4 linked regions of the Homo sapiens genome follow. The protein of the gene in region 3 interacts with the protein of the main gene of each other region in a biochemical or structural test. Each region holds a gene or a part of one and is shown on either strand. Other genes may lie near its edges. The genes, in order: AKT1, RPS6KB1, MXD1 and SMC3.

Region 1 (3,258 bases), on a different chromosome or scaffold from region 3:
GCTTCGAACAGGCCACTCAGGCCTCCCAGCCTTACTTCCACCGTGGCCCAGGCCATGACCTTGGCCCCAACTCTGGGCCCTGCCCTATCTGTCCTTCCTGGTGGTCTGTCTCATTCACTGCCCTACCCAGGGGAACAGCACCTGGGGCTGGGGGGCAGATGGCCACGTGGTCCAATGGTCTCCTTCATGGCTGGGGTGAAGCTGGGTGGGGTCAAGGGAAGAAGAGGTGGATCCCAACGGGGGCAGGGCCAGCCAGGGCCTCCCATCTCCCCTCAGGCCAGGCCTCTGGAGATGGGGGTGGAACACCTTCCATGGGAGGCTGCCCCTGGGAACAGGCCTGTATACTCCCGCCTCGGCCCACCACACAGCCTGTCCCCAAACCTGTTGGGGTGGCGGTGCCCACCAGGAGGAGCTGGGGAGGACCAGCTGCTCTGAGGATGCTGCTTCCCTCCCAGGACTCCCCACTCCCTCCCTGGCCACCCACTCTTCCACCCAGCAAAGTGAGCCAAAAATTTGAAAAGCAACTTTTATTGAAGAATTTGGAGGGAAGGTTCCATATTATATTATAATAGTAAAAATACTAAAGTTGAATGTTGTAAAAAAACGCCGTGGTGCAGCGGCAGCGGCAGCGTCTGGCCAGGAGGCGTGGAGGGGCCCAGGGATGGCCACCCCCACAGGGAGTCAGGGAGGGCCTGGGGCGACAGCGGAAAGGTTAAGCGTCGAAAAGGTCAAGTGCTACCGTGGAGAGATCATCTGAGGGGGAGGCTCCCGGTGGGACAGTCACCAAGAACTGTGACACAGAAGGGGAAGGGGGAGGGCTTTCCTGTCACAAAGATTAAAAACCCCCAAAATGCATTTGAACAACATAATACACAATAACAAATTTAAACCTTGCTCCTCTGTCCCACTGGGTAAACCCTGGCCCATCCCCCATCCCTGGTCCCATCCCAGGGGCCCAGCCTCCGATGACGTCCTCAGAGACACGGCCTTAGTGCTGGGGGGCTGCTGTGTGCCTGCCACCCCCAGGAGAGGGTGCTGGCCAGCATACCATAGTGAGGTTGCATCTGGTGCCACCAGGTTGAACTGAGGCCCAGGGCCCCAGAGAGATGACAGATAGCTGGTGACAGACAGCCCAGGGCGGCTGGCTGACAGAGTGAGGGGACACATGGGCAGGACCTGCCCGGCCCCCCAATGCCACATTGCGCATAGCTGCAGAAGTCCTTAACATTTCCCTACGTGAATCGGATTGTTCTGAGGGCTGAGGCCACACCCGGAGAACAAACTGGATGAAATAAATTAAAACCCGCAGGATAGTTTTCTTCCCTACCCCGCTGCGGGGGAGGGTGCTGCCCACAGCACAAAAACGTCTTTCCATCTGGGCTCGAGAGGACAGCGTGGCTTCTCTCAAATGCACCCGAGAAATAAAAACCATTAAATACAGATCATGGCACGAGGCCGCCTCTCCATCCCTCCAAGCTATCGTCCAGCGCAGTCCACCGCCGCCTCAGGCCGTGCCGCTGGCCGAGTAGGAGAACTGGGGGAAGTGGGGCCTGCGCTCGCTGTCCACACACTCCATGCTGTCATCTGTGGGTGTAGACAGCTCAGACCCCGGTGCCCCACCTCCCTGCCACCTCCACCCACCCACAGCTCCAGTAGGAAGCCAACCTCTTAAAGCACGGCCAGCACGCTGCCATACTGCCAGGAAACTGAGACAGGGCCCCACAGATTGACACAGGGACCTGGGCCCTCAGAGCACTGCCTCCCACCCTGATCATTGGCACTCTCCAAAAGGAACCTTTTTAAATATTTAGATTTTAAAACATCTGAAGCCAAAAAAGCTGAACACTGCAGGCCTCTCTGAGTGTGGAGAGAAAAGGGAGTGGGCGGGGGCAGGCAGTGGCCCCTCACCTTGGTCAGGTGGTGTGATGGTGATCATCTGGGCCGTGAACTCCTCATCAAAATACCTGGTGTCAGTCTCCGACGTGACCTGGGGCTTGAAGGGTGGGCTGAGCTGCAGAGGTGGGCAGACGGGACAGTCATGAGCTTCGCTCCCCACTCCCAGCACACCCTCAAGTGTGCTCAAGACCTTCAAAGCACCTGGATCTCCAAGGGGTCTCCAGGCAGGACTGATGTCAGAGAGCAGCAAGCCACCAGCCCCCCACAGAGGCAGCTCTGGGAGGGAGGGACATGAGGGGTGCAGGAGCACGGAGACAACCCTCAACAGCTGAGACGCAAAGCTGCCCTCACAGCAGCCCCAGCAGGCGACAGGAGGTAGTGCAGCCCAGCTCTGAGAGACCCTCCCTGCTACCAGGAGGTGATAACTTTATTTTTCCTTTTTCTTTCTTGTTTTCTTATTTTTCTTATTGGTCTTCTTGTAAATTGGGAAAGAGGGAGACTGTGGAACAAGGTGCACAGGATGAGCCCACCCTGCCTCCATGGCTCAGGGACTACAGGACCACAGCCTGCTGGCATCTGGCTGCAGACAGGACTCTCAATGACCCAGGATGAAGGGTGACTATAAGGTGATGTGCACACGTGAGGAGCTGCCAGAGAGCCCCTCAGGTCCCACAGTCAAGGACCCCCTCAAGCACTGCCCCACCCCAGAGTCTGGGCTGGGCACCAGCATTGTCCATTGTCAATTAGCAAGGTCTCTGGTCAAGGCTGGGCAGAGGTTGAGCACTGCCCAGGCCCCCCATACCCTTGGAGGGCAGGGCAGGAGGGTGGCAGGCCTCAAGGCAGGAACGGGGACCAGGACCAGGGCACCCTGTGTTAATGGGAGAACAGGTGCCCAGCTGGGTCCCAGGGCTGCCCAGCCCGACCAGCTGCACACAGCCTAGGACAGGCATTCAGGGGAGGGGCAGGCTGGGAACGGGGCAGAAGCACACCTGGTGACAGGGCACCCAGCATCTCAGAGTGCAGGCTTCCGAACCCAGCTGGCAGACCCCATCAGCTGGGGTGATGGCCAGGGCTCCTAGGGTCCCTGAAAGATGAGCACCCAGGATGGCGACTCATGCAGAAAGAGCTGCCTCCCTCCAGGGCGGACTCCCCCATGTGCCAGAAAAGTAGGTGCTGTCCCTGTCCCTGCACAGCCAGAAATAGGGCTGGGCTCTCCTTGCGGCAGAAGGGATTGAGGTCAAACAGGAGGAACTCGTGGAGGCCAAGGGGCAGCACCCCTGGTCCACCACCAGCCAGCCTTCACTGCACAGCGTCAGGGAAGGGAACCCCAAGGCTGGCACTCAGAGTGTGACACACCTCCGA
Region 2 (6,312 bases), on a different chromosome or scaffold from region 3:
TAATACATTTGCTTACTCTGTAACTATTCAGACAGCACTGTTTCTTAATGAATGTGATTACATAACCAAGGAGGTGCATGGTGGGGTTTTTTTTTGGAATGCAGTTTACCTATAAATTGAAAAGGGAGAAAATCTAATGGAGCTATGCCATCCAATAAAAATGCTGATGAACTGGAAGCATTTCTTCCATCCCTCTATTCCTTCACCTCAAAAACAGGTAATGTAGATTCAGAAACTCATTTACTCTGTGAATTCAGATCATGGCTTCTAAAAGATTGTTTTACCAGTATTGATAGGCTACTATGTTGTATAGCAAGGTAAGATCAGTTTGAGAGCTTCTGTAGAGAAATCCCCTTGGCAAGTGTGGTATAATTACCTCACAGAAAAGAAGTGGTTAATGCAAAATACCCAGCTTACACTAGATATATTGAGACATTAGTTAAAACACATTTGTTCACTACGTTATTTTGTGCATACATATCAAATTATCAAATGTAGCTGACCAAGTGTAGCTGAACAGATTGTTGATTGTTAGCACAAGAAGGTCTTCCTAGAGTTTTTTATGAAGCTAGCTTTCACGTAGATTGTTACATGTATTTTTTTAAGTAAACAATTCATATCTACTATCTGACATAACTTGAAAATCAAAGATGTGTAACATCTAACTTAAAAATCAATACTAAAACTTGTTATATACTTAAATAGCTTCAGTTTCTCAGCAGAACAGCTTTTAACCCATTCCTTACATACATAGTTTATTTATATGACAACTTGAACACATCTGACATGTTAAAATAAATTTAAACCATTTATACACCTGATACGTATACTAATTCCTTCCTATCTTTAAGATAATAAAAAAATAAATCACTTCTATTTATGTTCATTCAAATTTGCATTTAATTTCTATTTACATTCATTCAATCCGAAATCAAATAATACAGTCAACTAAATACAAGATGAAAAGCAGAACAGGTGTTACCCTCATAGCACTCCTAATAAGGCAGCTGAAGAATTTTATTTACTGATAGATGCAAAGCGAACTTGGGATAGGAGAAACAATAGTTTAAAGAGCAAACACAAACATAGATGAACCCATCTTTCAGATGTTATTCCGGATAATCCACTGAGATAATACTTGTGCTATAATGTTAAGAATCACACAAGAAAAAGTACTGTATTAATCAGCAACAGACCACAGGTTATGTGTGACAAATACTTTTGTGATAGTTTGTCCAGCTTGCTAGTGTCTACTCCTATGAAAAAAGGTAGATGTTTGGACATTGATGTTTTTGAGAAATTAACCATTTTCAAAGCCTTAAAATCTATTCTTCATAAATTCAACATTTCTCATGGGAATAATCTTAGATCTAGCCCTTGTAAGCTAGGAACCATATGATTAACTGAATATTCAAAATAGGTCCTATATTAAATATATAATCCAAGGCTCAGTATATTAATACTATCTAAGATGCATCTTGTTTATAATCATTCATTACCTATAGTAAAGAATGTTGAATTTATGGAGTATCATACATGCATCCTCCACCCCTGCCCACAAATTATCTTCTATCTTAAAAAATAGTATGGAAAAATCCTTCTTGAAGGATTCAAATTAGTTAAGACCATAAAGGGGGAAAAAGAACATAATTTTCCTAAAAATCTGGTTCAAAGTTCAATAATTAATACTTTACATTGTTAATCACAGCTGGTTTATAAATCCCAGTTTAGTTATTCTGTAATGCTACAAACCTTATAAAATCAAATTAGTAAACTTCAGTGATTATATTTTAATTAAAAAACAGCATGTATAAAATAAAAAAATATCCTGTAATAGCTGATTTTAAAGAAAATAATCAAGTGATGAAAAAAAAGCACTTAATCTCTTTTATACACTTACCTGGTATAACATAAAGAACCCTCTTAGAAACTCAAGACTAGTAATATCGACATCATATTTTAAACTATGCTTGGATTTTTACAAATAAATATAGATAAGCCATATTGCATAGGTGTGTGCTTTCTGTCTGTGACACTAATGTGACACTTGACATGTTTTCACAGTCATAGTAGGGATATCCATTTATGAAACAAGTTCTCAATAAACTTTCCACAGCATGGGAAATAAATTTCACTTAATAAATGTGAAGTCAGAAAAACTATGTATTTGTGTGGATGGTAGCTGTGCAATTAATGCTTTTTATGCAGAAAAGTTGCAGTGTTTGCCACTATTGCTGGCACTACTAATTATGAAAATGGTTTAACTGGGGTGGTTATAGCCAGCCAATCACAGTGCTCATGTTACTAGCAAATAGGACCTAGGAAGAATATTTTGGTGTATAAGTTTCACTGGAATTTGGTCAGGCAGTCAACACTACAGTTAGTAAACATATTTGAAAACAAGTATCAAGAGTATCACAAGCCATTTACAGTCTGAAATAATGCCTGTACATATCACCATAGCTTTTCGGGTTCTGTTTTTTCAGACATCACAAATTGTCAAAGAACAAGGATCTGCACTTTTTAAGTATAATTTCTGCCCTTAATTATTATTGTAGCTTCTAATTTACCAGCAACAGTCAAAGTTCTCAGTAGGCTGCTGCAATAAGGGAGGAGGGGGAAGAGGGAGTGATTTTTTTTTTAAAGGCTTTCTGTCCAAAGATGAACTTTTATCGATTCTTTCAATTATTGCCACAATTGAAAAGGTGTATGTCCAATCATTTTTCATGGTTCTGTTTTTGCTTACTGTCATAGGATTTCATCCCATCTCATTTGAGTTGCAATTTCAAAAAGCAAAGCCTTGCTCTTTTCTGACTGAATTCAACATGCATAAAGAATTTTATGGCTTGGATCCTATGGCTCAAAAAGGTTTGAAAACATAGCAAGCAGCATCTATTTAAAAAAATCCTAGGGTTGCAAAATATTACAAATTGACTTTGCACACTCAGACTGAAGACATTATAAAAGACAAACAAAAAAGGTGATACAACTCAACTGCAACTGCATGATCATCTATTATACCAGTATGCACTGAAATATATTTTTATAAAGCTCTGCAGATATTAAACCCTTTCACCAGCTAAAGTCATGGAAATGCTCTCTTTAAGGCAGGAAATATTTAAGAAAGGTAAAGTTACCTTTATTTTTATTCTTTTAACCTGTAAATCATTTATGTAGATTTTGTTACAATTTCAAAAACATAGTGTCCTGTTAACATGTTTCCTAAATTAAGCCACTAAGTTTTCTTTACTGTGGAAGACATTCATCAAAAGGCCATCAAATATTTTTACAATCAAAAAATGTAGCCCAAGTATAGGAGAAAAAAAAATAGACCTTTTTTTCTTTTTAAAACTGTTGAGGAAAAAAATATAAGGAAGGTAGACAGCAGAAACAGTAGAAAGAAGTAAAACTGAAAATCTTACCAATTTGCTGTAAAGAGATTAGACAGAGAGTGGGCCACAGCAACACCCTCTTCCCCTGGATATCCCTATCTCCCTCACCTTGCCGACCACAGTATGTATTTTTTATCCTGACTCTCTTCTGTTGTTCTTCAGCCATGGGCTGAAGACATTTGGTGTCTTGAACCAAATACTGGTGTAAGAACAGGTGGCGATTTTTTTTTCCAGTGCAATGCAGGCCCGGGACAATGATGAAATGTAGGACATACAACTTATGCCCATTCCAAGGCTTCCAGTTAAGCTTAGCACATAGCAGTACTGCAAGTAGAAATGATTAAATAGATTCATTTTTTTTTTCTCATATTACAGACAGGTATTGCAGCTGGGTTACTGAAAATAAACCCCAGGTCCACCCCAATCCCTCAAACGAGCCACAGCTGTGGTTAACAATGATTCATTTGCATTTTATTATTTCACCAAGAGAAGAAACAGAAGTTGTCTGGCTTTCTTCACACCAACCAATAATTTCGCATTTTAAAGTTTGGGATGTTTTTCATAATGAGCTGAATCAAAAATCTATTTGAAAAATATATATTTATATAAAAAAAAGATTCAGGTTGTTTGCACGTAAAACATCAATTGGTAAGTTTCTTTTGTCTTTGCTTCCATTTTGCTGGAAAAAGTTTGACCAAGCTTGCATGCTAATTTGTCCTTAGTTGCAAGTATTATAGGCAATTTTGTACTTTGCCTAATGAAAGGATAACCCTTCTTCAACACAATCAGAACTCAACAGTGATTCAGAAGCAACATCCTACCCTTAATACTGTCAGTTTCGAGTCATCAACATGAAAATCCTTGATAAGGTTGAGAAGATGTCGCGAGGAATCAATTAATTGATGTGCCTAAGAGTTCAGCAATACTATTTTGCTTTAAGTTTTTTTTTGCACCATTGATTGATTTTTTAAAATCCACGTTTATTTTTCCTGTGTCTGAAGTGTTCTATGTAATGACATTGACTCTCTGAAACTGTCATTTTGAGTCGTTTCACCTTGCAGGATGCTCACACATCTCCCTCTCCACCTTTTTTGCCTTAAATTCATTAAAAGCATTGCTCTGTCATAGATTCATACGCAGGTGCTCTGGCCGTTTGGAGATCATGGGAAAAGCTTGTTTTTTGTATGGCCCAGAGTTCGGCTGTCGTATTGGAAGTGGTGCCGATGCTTCCCCACTCATTGTCACATCCATCTGCTCTATGCCACTTGTTTCCATTGGGTATTCCACAGGTGTCTGAGGATTTGCTGTGCTGGCCGAAGCACCTCTTCCCCAGAAATCCCCAGGAGAAAATTTGACTGGGCTTTAAGACAAGGAAGAGCTATCATTCATTTGCTTAAGGGTCATCTCAACAAGACATATTTCCTTTACGTTTAAAGGGAGTGGGGTAACATGACATTTATTTTCATTTAATTTTATTTTCACGTGGATTAGCACAAAGGCAAAAATTGAACCATCTCTCCCCCACCTAGATTAACTGCTAGAATTTCCTAACTGGTCTCTTTACCTCTACACCTGACCCCCAAAACCCTCAATGAGATATATATACATTTAAATGCGTATTATATATATCATTTTACTCTCCCCTGCTCAAAACAGCTTTCTATTGCATTTAAAATAAAATACTTTTCCAAACCTCTGCCCTTCTCCTCACTCACCACACACTCCAGGAACACTGATTTCCCTTTCACTTCCAGGAAAAGGGCAACTTTTCTCCTCCCTCAGGGTTTTTGCATTTGCTGTTCTTCTGCCTGCAACATTCTTATACCTCCTATTTTTGTAGGGCTGGCTCTTTCCGTTCACTGCTAGATGTTACTACACCAGGGAGGCCTTTCTCTGATCACTGTGAGTAGAAGCCCCCTTGTTTTTCCTCTGCTCTCTACCAGTACATTCTTTTTTTCCCCTTTTAAATTATAGCACTTTGCACTACTTGTAATTATATTTTTGTATATCCTTTGTCTATTGTGACTTTCCCACTAAATTGTAAGCTTCATCAGGACAGGGACAATTCCTGTATTATAGTACTATATAGATACACACACATAACATGCAGTATGTAGTGCTGGTGCTCTTGGTGCACAATAAATGCTGAGTGAATGGATAAAGAGGACATTTGCCAGTATGGCTGCTTACTTTTGGGAGGGAAGGTAAACCATATAACATCATAGATTAGTCAGACTAGTCCTTTGCAATGTAAGATATAGATGCTGTGCTTATGTCAACCAAAGAGAGTATGACAGTCTTTCATTTATATAACTTGGCATAAACTTCTTAAGCAAACACTCTTGTAGGTTGTTTAAAAACAAAAAAAAGTGAAAATAAGAGTGTGAAATACCTGACAGGTGTTCGTGGGCTGCCAATAAATCTTCGAGGTGATCGGATTTTTGGTTCAAAGGAAAACTTTTCTTTCACACTTTCAAGTACAGATGGAGCCACATATGTAAAACCCTGAAAGACAGTAACAGTGGACTACAGAATGGCATTTTGTCATGTATCTCAAGAGAATGGGGTTGTTCAGTCTGACATACCTACACAATGATGCACACCTAAAACCACCAATGTGTACACTCTCCCACGTCCTCAACCTCATTTTTAGACCCGTTAACTTCTTTCCAGCCATTTCGTGAGGCACACACTTCAAGAAAGCAGAATTCCATTGAGCCTGATATGCTAGCAAACAAAATTCTACCCTACTGACAGGAATAGAAAAAAAAACAGGAAAATTCAGGCTCCATATGAAGATGTTAAATACGCCCAGGCACGGGGGCTCACGCCTGTCATCCCAGCACTTTGGGAGGCCAAGGCGGGCAGACCACCTGAGGTCAGGAGTTAAAGACCAGCCTGGCCAATGTGGTGAAACACC
Region 3 (7,358 bases):
GGGTGTGTCCAAAAATAATCAATAAGGAGAGGAGTTCTAGTAACAGTGTACCATCCTCTCCTGTTCACCTGCAACAGAGAGTAGAAATGTGGACTTTTTCTTTCACTGATAATGGCTACTAGCTCTGCTAGTGCCACAGCTCAGTTATTGCTGAAAGTTCAATAGGAAAATAGATTATAATTGGACCAAATGTCACTATTTTGGGGGGGGAAAAAAGGATAATCACTGTGTTAAGTGGGAAATGGAGATCTCATTTATCTCTGAGGTAGGAAAAAAAAATGTTCCAGAGACAAGTAGCATTAACAAAGTTGGAGGGGAGAATGTGCCTCGAGATAGCAGAACACAGCGAGGTCCCAAGAACATCGCACAAAAATAGATTGTACCGTTTTGTTTGTGAGAACAAACAATTTGGAACTTTGATGAGCTGTGCAACCCCAGAGACACACTATCAAGGTGTCCATTTTAAAGTGAGAAATACTGCTCCCATCCACACGCGGCGCGTCGGGGGAATGAGCATGCGCGGTGTGAAGGGCGTGTTTTCTAGAGGTATTCCTGACTTCCTCACTGGTGGTGAGGTCCATGGTTAAGTGCTCTTAAATGCTGCTTTCAAAGCTTACTTTGGAGTTCTGAGATCAGGATCTCAATTTCAAAAGTTTGTTTCCTTCAGTTTCCTAAGTACAAGACACACTTGGACATTCCTCCTAGGCAAGTAACACAGTAAGCCAGAAAACTGGAAGAAAGGTCTGGGAGAGGACACGAGGAGAGCAAAGAGGGGGATTGCTGAGATGTGGACATTGCTTATTCGGTCTAAGAATTCTTGGATGCTTCAAATTGATTGGAATGTATAGTCTCTCAGAGACAAATTTTTATGGCGAGAAAAAGAGAAGCTAGTGGATGCAATCAGAAACCCACAATCCTAAGCACCTCCTTGAAAACAGTTACAAAGCTGATTTTGGTCAAGGTGGGACACTGAAGTTTACGTGCAAGGGAGTTGTGGGCAGGTCCAATACGTTACCTAATCAGAACCAACAGGGAGAACCTTCAAGGAGACAGCCGCAGTGCCCACTCTCTTAGAGACCAAGACACGCCTTGTGACTGTCCTGCAGCTTTATTCTCTTGATGCTGGTGCTGGAATAGCCCTCATCACTGCCGAGGCTCTGCATGCTGCCCCGCTCGTCAGAGTCGCTCACACTGCTGCTGCTCCAGTCCAGATCACCTGTGAGATAGTCCGTGCTCTCCACGTCAACGTCGATTTCTTCTGCAGGGAGGACAAGAGAGAAGGACATTGATGAAAGCGCTCTGCAGAAAGCTCAGGCGTGGTGGCTCATGCTTGTAATCCCAGCACTTTGGGAGGCAAAGGCGGGTGGATCACTTGAGGTTAGGAGTTTGAGACCAGCTGGGCCAACACAGTGAAACCCTGTTTCTACTAATACAAAAATTTGGCTGGGTGTGGTGGCTCACGCCTGTAATCCCAGCACTTTGGGAGGCCAAGGTGGGTGAATTACTTGAGGTCAGGAGTTCGAGACCAGCCTGGCCAATATGGTGAAACCTCATCTCTACAAAAATAGGAAAATTTGCCAGGCATTGTGGTGTGTGCCTGTAATCCCAGCTGCTTGGGAGGCTTAGGCAGGGGAATCGCTTGAACCCGGGAGGCGGAGGTTGCAGTGAGCCAAGATCACACCACTGCACTCCAGCCTGGGTGACAGAGCAAGATTCCGTCTCAAAACAAAACAAAACAAACTAGGCTGAAAACTGACACCAATCAAACTCTTCTGGGGTTGTCACCTAAGTGTTAGCAGGGAGAAGGAACCTGTCACTGGAGGTCACACTGTTCGACTTCTCTACATCATACCCAGTGTCTTAGTTCTTCTTACACTCTGCCTCCTGTCCGCAGTACTGAACCCCTGCTCTGGGGTTGGGGAGCACAAGGGAGACAGGGAGGAGAGTGAGAGAGGCTCACCCCTGTCGGAGTCGGAGCGCTCCGAGGAGACGGTGGAGCCGATGCTGTCCATCCGGATCCTCTCAATGCCCAGCTTCTCCAGCTGCCTCTTCAGGTGTCGCTGCTCTCGCTGAAGCTGGTCGATTTGGTGAACGGCTTTTCTGTCACAATCTTCAAGTTTCTGCAAGTCAAAGGGGTAGTTGTTGGGCCCCACAGGGAGATCTCTAAATGGGCAATGGCCCCCGCATCTTCCCTTCTAGCAGTGGAATGCGCCACACTTCCTCAGACGCCTTTCGGTGCCACTCATCAAGCTTCTCCCTGAGACAGGAAGTCGACTGGCCAGTGACTCCTGGCTTCGTCTGACTCTTCAGCATCGCCAGTGCTGGGGGTACTTGTCCTGTCACAGGGATTCTGGGGGTGAGCTCTCACATACTGGCACCCTGGTAGCCCTCAGTTTTAGTATCAGAAAGACTGCAGGCAGCAGTCCCCAACCTGATCTCCCTTGTTTGCAGCAATCCCCTGAACACCTGATCTCCGGACTAGAAAACTGCACTTGATGGGAGCTTAAGAAACACGCTTCCATTTAAAACTATGTTTATTCAAGTACATGTCCCAATTACATAAGCACTTTTTTGTGTCATGCCAAATCTCAATTAACTTCTGTTTGTTAGCAGGAAATAATAGTCCCTTTTGATGTCCTGATTCTAATTTGTCCAACAGAAGAGTTTAGAAAACACATTTCCATAGAATACTCATTTTTATAAATCTGCCCCCAGCTTCTCATATTCTTCAGATAATTAAGAAGATTGTTTAATTGTAGCTGTTTTGCTTTAAATAGAGGTTTTCTCCCAGAATTGTCATGAATGCAGGCTTCTAACCATAATTAAAGTAACATTTGTCCAACTATAATATGATTATACAAACATGCTAAACAGGGATTTTGGCTGTGGCTCTCAAGACTTTGAATCCAATTCCCCTTACCCTTTGCTATTCAGGTAGCAAAGAGAGTGTCAACTCTGTGCCCGATACCCTAGGAGGTGCTGGGGCTGTGAGGTGAGCACAAAGACCCAGTCCCCTCCCTCGTGGGGTGTATAGTCTAAGGATTGAGACAACACAATGGTCACACAAACCACTGTCAAATGTCAGTTATGACAGGGCTAAGAGATACCCAGTGATGGGACCACCTGTCACAGGAAGGAGGTCACTGAGTTGGGAAAGTCAGCGAAGGATTATCAGAGCTAGAGAGACTTGCACTGTGATCTGAAGAATAAGTAGAAGTCCTCTAGGTGAAGAAGAGAGAGGAAAGTGTACCAAGCAGAGGGAAGAGCATTGACAAAGGCCCTAAAGTAAGACAATATGACAGTGCCAGGGACTGGAAGAAGGGCTGGAGAAAGGGGAATTGGGGAACAAGATGGTGCTGCAGAGGCAAGTGAGGACCAGGCAAGGCAGAATCTGGGGCAGACCAGGTGACAGAGCTTGTCCTGAGCCACAGAAGAATTTTAAACAAGGTCACGTGTTGATTTGCACCTTGGAAGGACTGTTCTCAGGAAGCATGGAAAGCAGACGGGAGGGACCCAGAGGGATATAGGGAGACCTCTGAGGATTTTATTGCAGTAGACAGTGGGGATGAAGATGGAAGTAGACCGGTTGCAAAATATTTAGGCCTTGGAGATGGCCTAGATATATGGTTAAGGAGCAGGAGCTATCACGGACTCCTGAATTTCTGGCTTGTACAACTGGATGGAGAGTTGGATGGACCATTTAACCTCTGGTGCATGGGAGTGAGAAACACTCAGTTGGGTTTTGAATATGTTGCATTTGAGGTACCTGTGATTCATCCAATAGCTAGACTGGAGGAGTTCAGGGGAGAGGACTGTCCTGGAGATGTAACAACAGACAAACCCTCACTGAACAGGTAAAGATAAAGCAGCATCCCAACAATACACTTACCTTTATGTGCAATTTGGCTTTTGTTAATAAACTCAACGTAGTGTGTCGACTTGATTCGGGTCCAAGTGGCACCAGCCCCTTCAACTTCTCCAGGCACAAGCGAAGATGAGCCCGTCTATGAAAACAAGACCACAGTAGCATTTGAGAGTTTCACAGTGGGCCAGAAGCACCCCAGGCAGAATGAGTTCTCAAAGAGTGTGAAGTTGCCCAGGCCTTGCGATGGCAAATGCTACCAATGACCTTTTGCTGAATAAACATATTTTGAACCAGACAACTCTGGTGAAAACCAATGAGAAGCAAAATCCAAGGTTTTCGAAGCTAAGTCTATTGATAATACAAGTGCTGGGGTAGGGAATAATATCTGCTATTATATAGTCATTCACATGTGTAAATACTATATACAGTAATGGTCCCTGACTCATGATGGTTCAACTTACAATTTTTTAAATTTATAATGAGTTTATTGAAGTATTAAATGCATATTAGACTTGGGATGTTTTTTATTTATGATGGGCTTCTTGAGACATAACCCCATCATAAGTCAAGGAGCATATATATCTGTGGAGTTATTTGTTGAAGCTTTATTTGTAATAGCAAAGATTGAAACAACCCAAATGACCACCCAGGAGGGAACTGGTTAAATAAATTATGCTACATCCACACCGTGTAGTACTATGTAGCTATCAAAAAGAATGAGAATGTGCTTTATGTCCTATTAGGAAAGATTTTCCAGATATATTGTTAAGTGGAGAAAAGCAAGATTCCAAACTGTGAGTATACCATGCTATCTTAAAGATGGAGGAAAACAAGAATCTATATTCATGTTTTCTTGTATGTAGACAAACTCTGGAATGACACATAAGAAACTGGCTGGGCAGGGAGAAGGCAAGGAACAGTCAGACAGAGATAAGGAAGGAAGTGATGGGGGTTTTTACTGAGTCATTTTTTATACTTTTTGTTCTTGGAGTATGTCAGACTGATGCAATGGCACGGAGTGGGAGAGGGAGAAGGGCTGGATGAAGCAGCAGCCACGGCAACTGACTGAAGAGAGAGCACGAGAGTTGCTCCAACTGAGAAATTTACATTTCCTTGAAATGGTTTGTGCTTTATTCTAGAACCTGGAAAATTCTATGAATGTAAGAAGCAGCTGAGATTTGGGGGTTTTGCTTAAGCTTACCACCTCCTTAAAGCCTTCCCAAGCCATCCTAGCTCACAGTGATTCCTCTATTTTCTAAGCACCACTTAACTGTTTATATTATTCACTGGGAAGTTCACTGTACTGCCTGACTTGTTTCATATTTCTTACTTAACCATTCATTGCAGTCTCCTTAGAAAGTCAGGATTGCAGCTTAATCATTGCTGTGCTGTCACCGTGCCTCAAACACACACATGCTTAATAAGTGTTTGCTGAATGGATTATGTCATCTATTCAACTAGACTTTAAGCTTCTAGAGGACAGAGTCCATCTCTACTGCATCTTTGCACCTTCAGCAGTGCTCAGAGTCTTCAGGTTTTAGATAACATTCATTGCCCACACACAACCTACTTGGAGCAGAGTTCCCTGGGGTCTAGGAGGCTCCCCTCCAGCTGAATTGGGAAACAATGCAATGCCTTATAGGTTTGCCCTTTTTCCTCTTAAGAATTGTACTGTAATAGCAAAAGTTGAAAATATAGACCAAAGAAAGGAAATGGCTTCAGAAAGCTATAGGACAGGTGAATATGCATGATATTAATGTAAGAAGTCAATTCACACTCTCCAGGGAGACTTCAGGATGTTCCCCTAAGGCAGGGCTAGTAAGCAAGGCATTAGACTTCCTTCCTTCTGAGCCTCCTGCCTCTTCTAGGTCATGAGGAAGTTGTCCTAAACTCTCCAAGGGTGCTCTAAGGCTTGGCAAGCTTGGGGAGTACAGCATTCATTTCTGAGCTAGGAAGAGGTAATAGCACAAGGGCTTTACTATTTTGTAAGTCTTTCACTTCTTCTGAAAAACCTGTCCATGTGGCAGAGTCAGAGCAAAGACTCATGTTACAGGTGTGCTCCTCCCACTACTGCATGTGGTGGGGACCAGGGAAGGGAAGAAAACTTGTATGTAAAATATACTTGTTCATCTTGGATAATATTCTTCAAAAAGAGCCATGAAAATAGATCATGTTATTAGAAACACTATGAGAAAGTATAATTTATACATTTATAAATTTGTCTATTTCTTGCCATAAAACTTATAGACTAATTTTCTTTTTTTGTTTTTTTTTTTTTTTTTTTTTTTTGAGACAGAGTTCTTGCTCTTGTCGCCCAGGCTGGAGTACAGTGCCGTGATCTCAGCTCATGGCAACCTCTGCCTCCCAGGCTCAACAGATTCTCCTTCTTCAGCCTCCTGAGTATCTGGGATTACAGGCGCCCGCCACCACGTCCGGCTAATTTTTGTATTTTTAGCAGAGATGGGGTTTCACCATGTTGGCCAGGCTGGTCTCGAACTCCTGACCTCAAGCAATCTGCCTGCCTCAGCCTCCCAAAGTGCTGGGATTACAGGTATGAGCTAATTTTCCAATTAGAAGAAAAAGTTCAAAAATTAAAATTATATTTAGATATTTTTCAGCCAGCTTGTTATTTGCAAAGACTGCATGATTCAGAACAGTGTCATTTTAGTACTTTTATGATGTTGGTTTATATGCAGATATGAGTGTGTGAATTTTTTTAGGAAGTTTGTCCACTGATAAAAATATAATAAAGTCATCTTTTGATGCATTGTCATTTCTAGCCTTATAGGAGTCTTGCCCAGAAAGTGCAATTTTCACTACCCAAATGTGGGTTTCCAAAGAACACTCCTAGTCGTGAAACTAGAAATAAGCCATTTGACTAATTCCAGCTGAGACTAATACTTGTTCATTCAGTGTTTTCTGGCCTAGTTCTACAAAAATAGGACCAGAATTCTTTCTGGATTTTTGCAGAGACCCAAAGCCAACTCTGTCTTTGGCAGTGTCTGCCTTGGCCTTCTCCGGCGCCTCACTGCTGCAGCCTGATGGCTGCCCCCTGCCCACATGCCACTGCCTGCAGACATCCCCACACTGGTGCCCGGGCCAACCACAGGAGAGCAATGAAATATATTAAGTAGACTCAGTTCTATCATACAGTAGTGAAATCCAATCCCTGAACCAGATAAAAAAGCAAACAGACCCCTCTGTTATGTACAGCTCCTACCAAAGCTCTCCAACCCTGACACACACACACATACACAGACACACATACAGACACACAAACTCCTGGGATCTAGAATCCCTCTGCCAGCCCTGAGTACCCACGGAGCTCCCAGATCCAAAACAAGCAGAACAAACACCCGTCTCAGCTCTCTTTTCTCAGTTCTGACTACTCCTGTGCCCTGCTGTCCCATTTTAAACCAGGTCAAACTCCCATTTGGGGAACTAGCAGGGGTTTTGCCATATATCCTCAACAGGAAGCCACCCGACACCTCAG
Region 4 (7,358 bases), on a different chromosome or scaffold from region 3:
ACCACTTTGGGAGGCCAAGGTCGGAGGATTGCTTAAGCCCAAGATTTCGAGACCAGCCTAGGCTACATGGCAAGACCTCGTCTCTACAAAAAAATAAATAAAAATTTTGCTGGGCCTGGTGATACATGCCTGTGGTCCCAGTTAGGAGGCTAAGGATGGAGGATCGCTGAGCCTGGAAGGTGGAGGCTGCAGTGAGTTGTGTTTGTACCACTGCACTCCAGATTGGGTGACAGAACAAGACCCTATCTCAAAAAAATTAAAAATACATACATACATTTTAATATACTTAATCTACATAAAGGCTCAATGACATGAATATTCTTTAAAAAAGAACTATATGTATATTAAACTGTGCAGGCCTTTTCTAAATAAGTATCTGTCATATATTTTAAGAGCAACATGTAGACTTATTTAAAAAGAAAACTTGAAGTAGATAAAACTAAACACATTTATCTCTTCTGAAAGATTTTTACAAAGCAGCTATAGAAGTTCTTACATTATACTGCTCCAGATTTTTCTCTTTATTTGCTTCAGTGTCTTCCAAATCCTTATGTATAGCAGCAATCTGTCTTTTCTTGTCATTAATAGCCTGATCTAAAGACTTGAGTTCCTTTTTAATCCACTTATCCCTTTCTTCTTTTGATGTAAACTGGCTTCCTCGACCCTGCTTTGCATAAAGATCCGTTCTTTCCTGGGTAGCTTGAGCCAATCTACACAAAATAGAAGCAAATGGGATGAAAAGGAGAATAATAACCAAGTTTAATTGCAACCAATAATGTCAACTGCACACAGAAACATAAAGCCATTTTTCAAAAAGATACAAAAAGAATTAAGTGTAAAAAGCAGCTACTATATAATTGAGCTCCTCGGACAACCTAGTTTTACATAATATGATGTAGAAAGTTAAAGTGTTGGTGAAAGTTCTCAGACCTAGCAATTCCTCGTTCTTCTTTCTCTTTCACACTGTTGAATTTGGGTTCTGTTTCTGCCAGTTCTTTCTGCTTTTCTTCTATTTTTTCAAGCAGCTTCTGCCTCTCTTTTAATAAACGTTTCTGTAAACAAAGTAAAAATGCAAACTGCTTTAAATTTTTTGCATAATTTAGGTCTAGCATAAATGTTTTCTCAGGAAAAAAACTTCATGAGAAAACCCACCTGTAACATGAAACTCTTTTTTAATGTAAGAAACAAAGGGACAGTACCAAGTTGTTACTTGAGTACAAATTATGCTAACGTAGCAAAGCTTAAAAAAAAATTCCAACACACACCAGTCACAGAAAGGGCTGTCTTCTACAGTTGCTACTCACCTGAACATTCACATCTTTCATTTTTAGCATTTTAACTTACCCTTTGTTCACTATTGCCTGCTAGTTCATCTTGTAAATCCTTGGCTTTAAGCTCCAACTTAGTCCTCTGCTTAATCTGCTCTTGTCTTTCAGCACTAAGCTGTTCTTTTTCTTCTTTCATAGCTGAAATTTTTGTTTTCAATTCTCTAACTTGGCGTTCGATATCCTATTCAAAAGTATTAAACAGAAAATAAGGCAATTAGAAGTACAATAGCAGAATTGTGACACCATTAATTCTCTTTCACTTAATGTTTAGTAATACTCTGTCCTTTCAATATTCAATTCCTCTAACTCTCCCTTGTGTAATCATTCCATAATTCTGGTACAAAAGGGTTTACTATGGTCAAAAACATACGATGGCTGGACATGGTTGCTCATGCCTGTAAACTCAGCACTTTGGGAGGCCCAGGTGGGAGGACTCCTTGAACCCAGGAGTTCAAAACCAGCCTGGGCAACATACTGAGATTCCATCTCTTCAAAAAATAACAAAAATAGGAGGCTGAGGTGGGAGGATCACTTGAGCTTGAGAGATCAAGGCTGCAGTGAGCTGTGATCTCACCACTGCACTCCAGCCTGTGCAATGGAGTGAGACCCTGTCTTCCAAAAAAAAAAAAAAAACTTCAGGAGGCTGAGGCAGAAGGACCACTTGAGCCCAGGAGTTTGTGACCAGCCTGGGCAACATGGTAAGACCTTGTCTCTACAATATATTTAAAAACTAGACAGGTGTGGTGGTACACACCTGTGCTCCAGCTATTCAGGAAGCTGCGGCAAGAGGATTGCCTGAGCCCAGGAAGTCAAGGCTACAATGAGCCATGATGGCACCACTGTACTCCAGCCTGGATGACAGAACAAGACCCTGTCTCAAAAGTAAAAAGTAAGTTAACATGAACCTTGTTTATAATCTTACCTCCATTTTATCTCTTGCATCCTGCTGAGCATCTCTTAATTGTCTGGATTTTTCTCCACTAGTCTCTCGCTTAGCAGAAAGCTAAGAAAAAAAACAACTTATCATATCTAACTCATTTTGTAATTACTAAATATTTCATAACATCTAATAAAAATTTTTCTATTAAAATAAACCAAAAGTAACTGCTCAAATTTTCTACAAAAATTTTAAAAATGATTTTAAACTAGAAAACTGAAGCACTAAATTTTTGTACAAAATGTGTAGTTTAGGATATACTACAACTACAAGAAGCCTTCAAAATGGCTTTCCTCTCATCTTGTCTGCCTAATACCACCATCTGATTATATTTCAGATAATACTATATAGCAAGGACCACATGGCTAATTTCCTTGAACTAAAAAAACTTGCTGACTAATAAATTCATTGAGAGGTTTTTTTTAAGTTTCTATTTAAAATCACTGAAAAGTGTAATTATGGCCTGAGTTTAACAAATTCATAAAAACAAAATTAATCTGATTTTAAGTGTCACAGGTAAATATTTTACCTCATCAAGTTTGGCACGAGTCTCGTTAAGTTCCTGATTGTAAATGGTATATTCCAGGGCTCGTCTCATTTTATCCCACTTCTGATACTGAGCTAGTTCTTCCTTTTCTTCCTCTAGAGTATGTAATCTCTCTTCAATGTATTTTAACAACTCATTGATTTTTTCCCGTTTGCCCTCTTAAAAGAAATGGGGAGAGAGGTGGAAGAATTGAATAAGATTTTTATGTAATATCACTTCTTAAATATACCTTGAATTAAATTATTTTTAAGAACTGTAGCATTATTTCTTTGATGTGATGTGGTAACCCAATTTAAAATACTAAAATAGCAATTAACCCATTTATGCCAGAGGTTGCAAATTTTTTTCTGTGAAAAATCAGACCTTGGCAATGACCTTGAGCAGTAGAATATAAGTAACATCCACAAGCTTAGGATTCCAATAATGGAATGCTAGGCATAAATGGGTTAAGATCCTTTATTATGAAAAGCACCAGAGAACAAATTTACACATGGTGACACTGGTTCTTTTATAACATGTAGTAAGGGCCTCAGTTTAAGCTTCCTTTTAAAAAGTCAGTGTGCCGGCCAGGCGCAGTGGCTCATGAGTAATCCCAGCACTTTGAGAGGCCAAGGCAGGTGGATCATCTGAAGTCAGGAGTTCGAGATCAGCCTGGACAACATGGTGAAACCCTGTCTCTACTAAAAATACAAAAATTAACTGAGTATGGTGGTGGGCACCTGTAATCCCAGCTACTCAGGGAGGCTGAGGCAGGAGAATCACTTGAACCCGGGAGGCAGAGGTTGCAATAAGCAGAGATCGCGCCACTGCACTCCAGCCTGGGTGACAGAGCAAGACTCCATCTCAAAAAAAAAAAAAAAAAAAGTCAGTGTGCGTTTCCACAATATTTTTAAAAGCTACTAACATCATTGGTGTTATGGATTCTCAATTTTTATTAATAACAGCATTATCTAATGCTGTCATATACTAAACACCTACTATATTCCCATCATGGAGCCACTCTGTCACAAAAACAGTAATTTGCAACAAAAAAATAAGGCAGAATCACATTTATTTTACCTGTTTCTTTCATTAAGGAGATGCTTTCTTCCTTTCGTTCGTCATACACTCTAGTACCAGCTACTTCTCTTAATAGCTTTAATCTCTGAGAATCTGGTGCTGTTGCCATCTGGTTGATCTAAAATTTTTAGAAAAATAATCATTACATAGCTGTAGCCTCCGTTTAAGAAGAAGAACTCCACGTTGAAAGGTTTTTAATACACATGAAGGTTGGGTATCCCTTATGCAAAATGGTTAGAAACCAGAAGTGTTACAGATTTTAGATTTTTTCAAGTTTTGGAATATTTGCATTTATACTTACCAGATGAGCAACCCAAATCCAAAAATTTGAAATCCAAAATGTTCCAACAAGCATTTCCTTTGAATGTCATGTCCACACTCGAAAGGTTTCAGATTGTAGAGCATTCTGTATTTCAGACTTTTGAATTTGGGACATGCCAAGTTTTAAACAGATTATGATTTGGCTAATGTCATTTGTATAGTACGCATGCCTACATATCTATGTCTCCTTTACTTAAATGAAATTTACCAAATAAAATCCAAATACAACTGTTACGGTCATAACTCTCCTTTATGAATAGGGCTAACAAGTGAAGGAGTATCTCACACCACCATCTTTTTCTTAGTCAATATGATAAGGTATAAAAGATGAGCTCCATTCTCAAAAAACAAAGTATTTTTATAAGGGAAAACCATCACTGACTACACTTTTTTTTAAAGCTACAATAATATATTAAAAGTCAATTCTTCCTCAGTTTCCATGGGGATTGGTTCTAGGACCCCCTGCAGGTACCAAAATCCAAGGATGCTCAAGTCCCTTATATAAAATGGCATAGTATTTGCATATAACCTATGCACATCCTTCCATATACTTTAATATCTAGATTAATTATAATAATACAATGTAAATGCTATGTAAATAGTTTTACTGTATTTTTAAATTTGTATTATTTCTTATTGTACTGTTTTAAAATTTTATTTATTTTAAATATTTTTGATCCATGGTTGGCTGAACTTGCAGATGTGGAACCTACAGATACAGAAGGCTAATGATATGACAAAAATGGTATGCTTTAAATATAGAGAGAATGGTACAACTTAAGTGCCATGCAACTTAATATATAACAAGTATCCCTAAATGTCAAAAATGATATCACTGCATTAAAAAATTGAAATTATCTCTACGAAAATAGGTCTATCAAAAGTATCTACATCAAAGAATCATCCTTCAGATCCTCATTATTGAACGCTCCAATTATACATATTGGTTCATGCAATTTCCTCACTTAAAAATTATTTTTCAAATGGCTACAACATATGTGCCACTGCTGGGCACTGGAAAAGAGCAAACAAAGCAGAAAAGGTCCCACCCTCATGGAGCTTACATTCTAATGGAAAAAGACAGAAAATAAGTACTATCCTAACAGTGTAAGTGTTATGAAGAAAAATAAAACAGATTAAGGAAATAAAGCACATAGGGTTGAGGGGACGGCAATGCTTTCAGATGAGGCAATCAAGGATGGCATACGGGCAGAAACTGAAATGAAGTAAAAGGGCCTAGATTGACAGCAGACGGATCTCAGAAAAGTGCTCTTTCAAATCAGCCTCCATTTAAAAAAATTTATCTCCCACAAATAGTTAAATCGGAAAAAAACGTGTTCTTCCAGTAACACATTTTCTAAAACTGAAACTCCATATTCTTCCTAATCACTTCTTCTAAATGCTAACTTTCCAATACATATCTAGAAAAAAAGGCCTACAGTATAAAATAAGTGAATATTCTTTGAGAATTTTCCCTAGTCCAAAAAAAAAGTGAAAGTATATGAGAAGAGAGCAGAACAATCAGCTAAAAAAGTTTGTAGTTTGGCTGCTGAAAAAATGTAAAAACATAATCCCTATTAGGGAAAATAACATGTGGCAAAATGGCAGATTTCTGGTAATGTTAGCTTTTCAGTATTTTAATTGTGATAAATAATTAGGTAACACAAAATATTAATTTTAGAAAGTTTTTCAAATGTGATTTTTATAGAATTCCTACAATATTCTTAATTATTGCAACATTCATAAGCCAATAATGTCTTCCCATACTTTCACCTCAGTAAGTAATACCAGTCACTAGGAAAACAAGATCCACTTAATATGCTGAAATACTTCCATCTCAACATGCAATGGACCTATTTGGTACTTTATGGCCATGTAAAAGAATATGGCCATTTTTGCTTCAGCTTAACCACTCAAATCAATAAACCAAATTCATCACTCAAGAATTACTCAGAAAACAAATTCTACTTAAAAAGGACATACAATTGTTTTACCTTTCCTTGTTTAACAATATAATAAGGATTGCTTCGAGAAAAACCAGCGCTTTCAAGGAGGTTCATCACATCATTTTTCCTGTTGACAAACAATGAAATTACTTTCCGATAAATAATTTTAAAGCACCATTAAGCAATGAGTAGAGTAGCCCCTTGGTTGATAGCATTAGGGAGGAAAGATCAGTAATTAAACCATCTGTATCATCCTCAGAACTTTCTGATTCTTATGTTTATCCTCTATATGTTGACTTGTTGAAGATGAAGCAAATATTCCTCATATATGAAGCAGGTAAAAGAATACTTTTTACTCTTTTGTAAGGAAATCATAAAATTGCGGGCTGGGCGCAGTGGCTCATGCCTCTAATCCCAGCACTTTGGGAGGCCAAGGCAGGCAGATCACAAGGTCAAGAGTTCGAGACCAGCCTGCCAACATGGTGAAACCCCGTCTCTACTAAGAATACAAAAAGTAGCCGGGTGTGGTGGTGACTGCCTGCAATCCCAGCTACTCAGAAGGCTGAGGCAGCAGAATAGCTTGAACCCGGGAGGTGGAGGTTGCAGTGAGCCGAGACTGCGCCACTGCACTCCAGCCTGGGCGACAGAGCAAGACTCCGTATTGAGAAAAAGAAAAATGCTGGCTGGGCGTGGTGGCTCATGTCTGTAATCCTAGCACTTTAGGAAGCCGAGGTGGATCATTTGAGGCCAAGAGTTCGAGACCAACCTGGCCAACACAGCAATACCCCATCTCTATTTAAGTACATATTCAGTTTTTTTAAAAAAAAGAAAAATGCTTACGTGACCATCTTCTTGTCTAAGAAATACTGATCCTTTTTGGCACCAATAACTCTTCGAAGTGAAACTTCCTCTTTATCGATCTAAGAAAAAATGTAAAAGCCCACAGTTAATTTAATAGTAAAGGAGAAAACTTTTTAAATAAGGTCATTTTAAAGTCCTTGCCCATAAGTATTTATTTTAAAATTTCAATTATCTCACTAAAAATAATACTACAAATACTCAATACTCTTAACCAAGACACTTTTCACAACAGTTTGTACATTCCCATTTGTTAACAGAGTATTCATTGTCATTTTAAGATAAAATCAGTATATAAACTGTAATTATAACAAATTATAAAAGCTTAAAAAGTTTCAAAGTATGAAGAAAATCAGCTAAAC

What was found.
Region 1: of the proteins of MXD1 (region 3) and AKT1, one has a biochemical effect on the other in vitro, tested with the Homo sapiens proteins (2 studies listed by BioGRID, with this or other methods).
Region 2: of the proteins of MXD1 (region 3) and RPS6KB1, one has a biochemical effect on the other in vitro, tested with the Homo sapiens proteins (one study listed by BioGRID).
Region 4: the proteins of MXD1 (region 3) and SMC3 form a complex in vitro, tested with the Homo sapiens proteins (one study listed by BioGRID).

Annotation. Positions count from the first base shown.
Region 1 is NC_000014.9:104,768,837-104,772,094, forward strand, and holds the end of AKT1 (RAC-alpha serine/threonine-protein kinase), read right to left. Parts: intron 2,012-3,258; coding exon 1,909-2,011; intron 1,585-1,908; coding exon 1,505-1,584; 3' UTR 513-1,504; downstream 1-512. UniProt on the Homo sapiens protein: AKT1 is one of 3 closely related serine/threonine-protein kinases (AKT1, AKT2 and AKT3) called the AKT kinase, and which regulate many processes including metabolism, proliferation, cell survival, growth and angiogenesis.
Region 2 is NC_000017.11:59,944,991-59,951,302, reverse strand, and holds the end of RPS6KB1 (ribosomal protein S6 kinase beta-1), read right to left. Parts: intron 5,898-6,312; coding exon 5,785-5,897; intron 4,753-5,784; coding exon 4,515-4,752; 3' UTR 3,717-4,514; coding exon of another isoform or gene 3,701-3,716; 3' UTR 729-3,700; downstream 1-728. UniProt on the Homo sapiens protein: Serine/threonine-protein kinase that acts downstream of mTOR signaling in response to growth factors and nutrients to promote cell proliferation, cell growth and cell cycle progression.
Region 3 is NC_000002.12:69,931,997-69,939,354, reverse strand, and holds part of MXD1 (max dimerization protein 1), read right to left. Parts: intron 6,639-7,358; exon of another isoform or gene 6,162-6,638; intron 4,005-6,161; coding exon 3,890-4,004; intron 2,121-3,889; coding exon 1,961-2,120; intron 1,259-1,960; coding exon 1,071-1,258; 3' UTR 1-1,070. UniProt on the Homo sapiens protein: Component of a transcriptional repressor complex together with MAX. In complex with MAX binds to the core DNA sequence 5'-CAC[GA]TG-3'. Antagonizes MYC transcriptional activity by competing with MYC for MAX binding.
Region 4 is NC_000010.11:110,577,535-110,584,892, reverse strand, and holds part of SMC3 (structural maintenance of chromosomes protein 3), read right to left. Parts: intron 7,059-7,358; coding exon 6,979-7,058; intron 6,266-6,978; coding exon 6,187-6,265; intron 3,990-6,186; coding exon 3,872-3,989; intron 2,971-3,871; coding exon 2,795-2,970; intron 2,332-2,794; coding exon 2,251-2,331; intron 1,510-2,250; coding exon 1,345-1,509; intron 1,053-1,344; coding exon 931-1,052; intron 711-930; coding exon 497-710; intron 1-496. UniProt on the Homo sapiens protein: Central component of cohesin, a complex required for chromosome cohesion during the cell cycle. The cohesin complex may form a large proteinaceous ring within which sister chromatids can be trapped.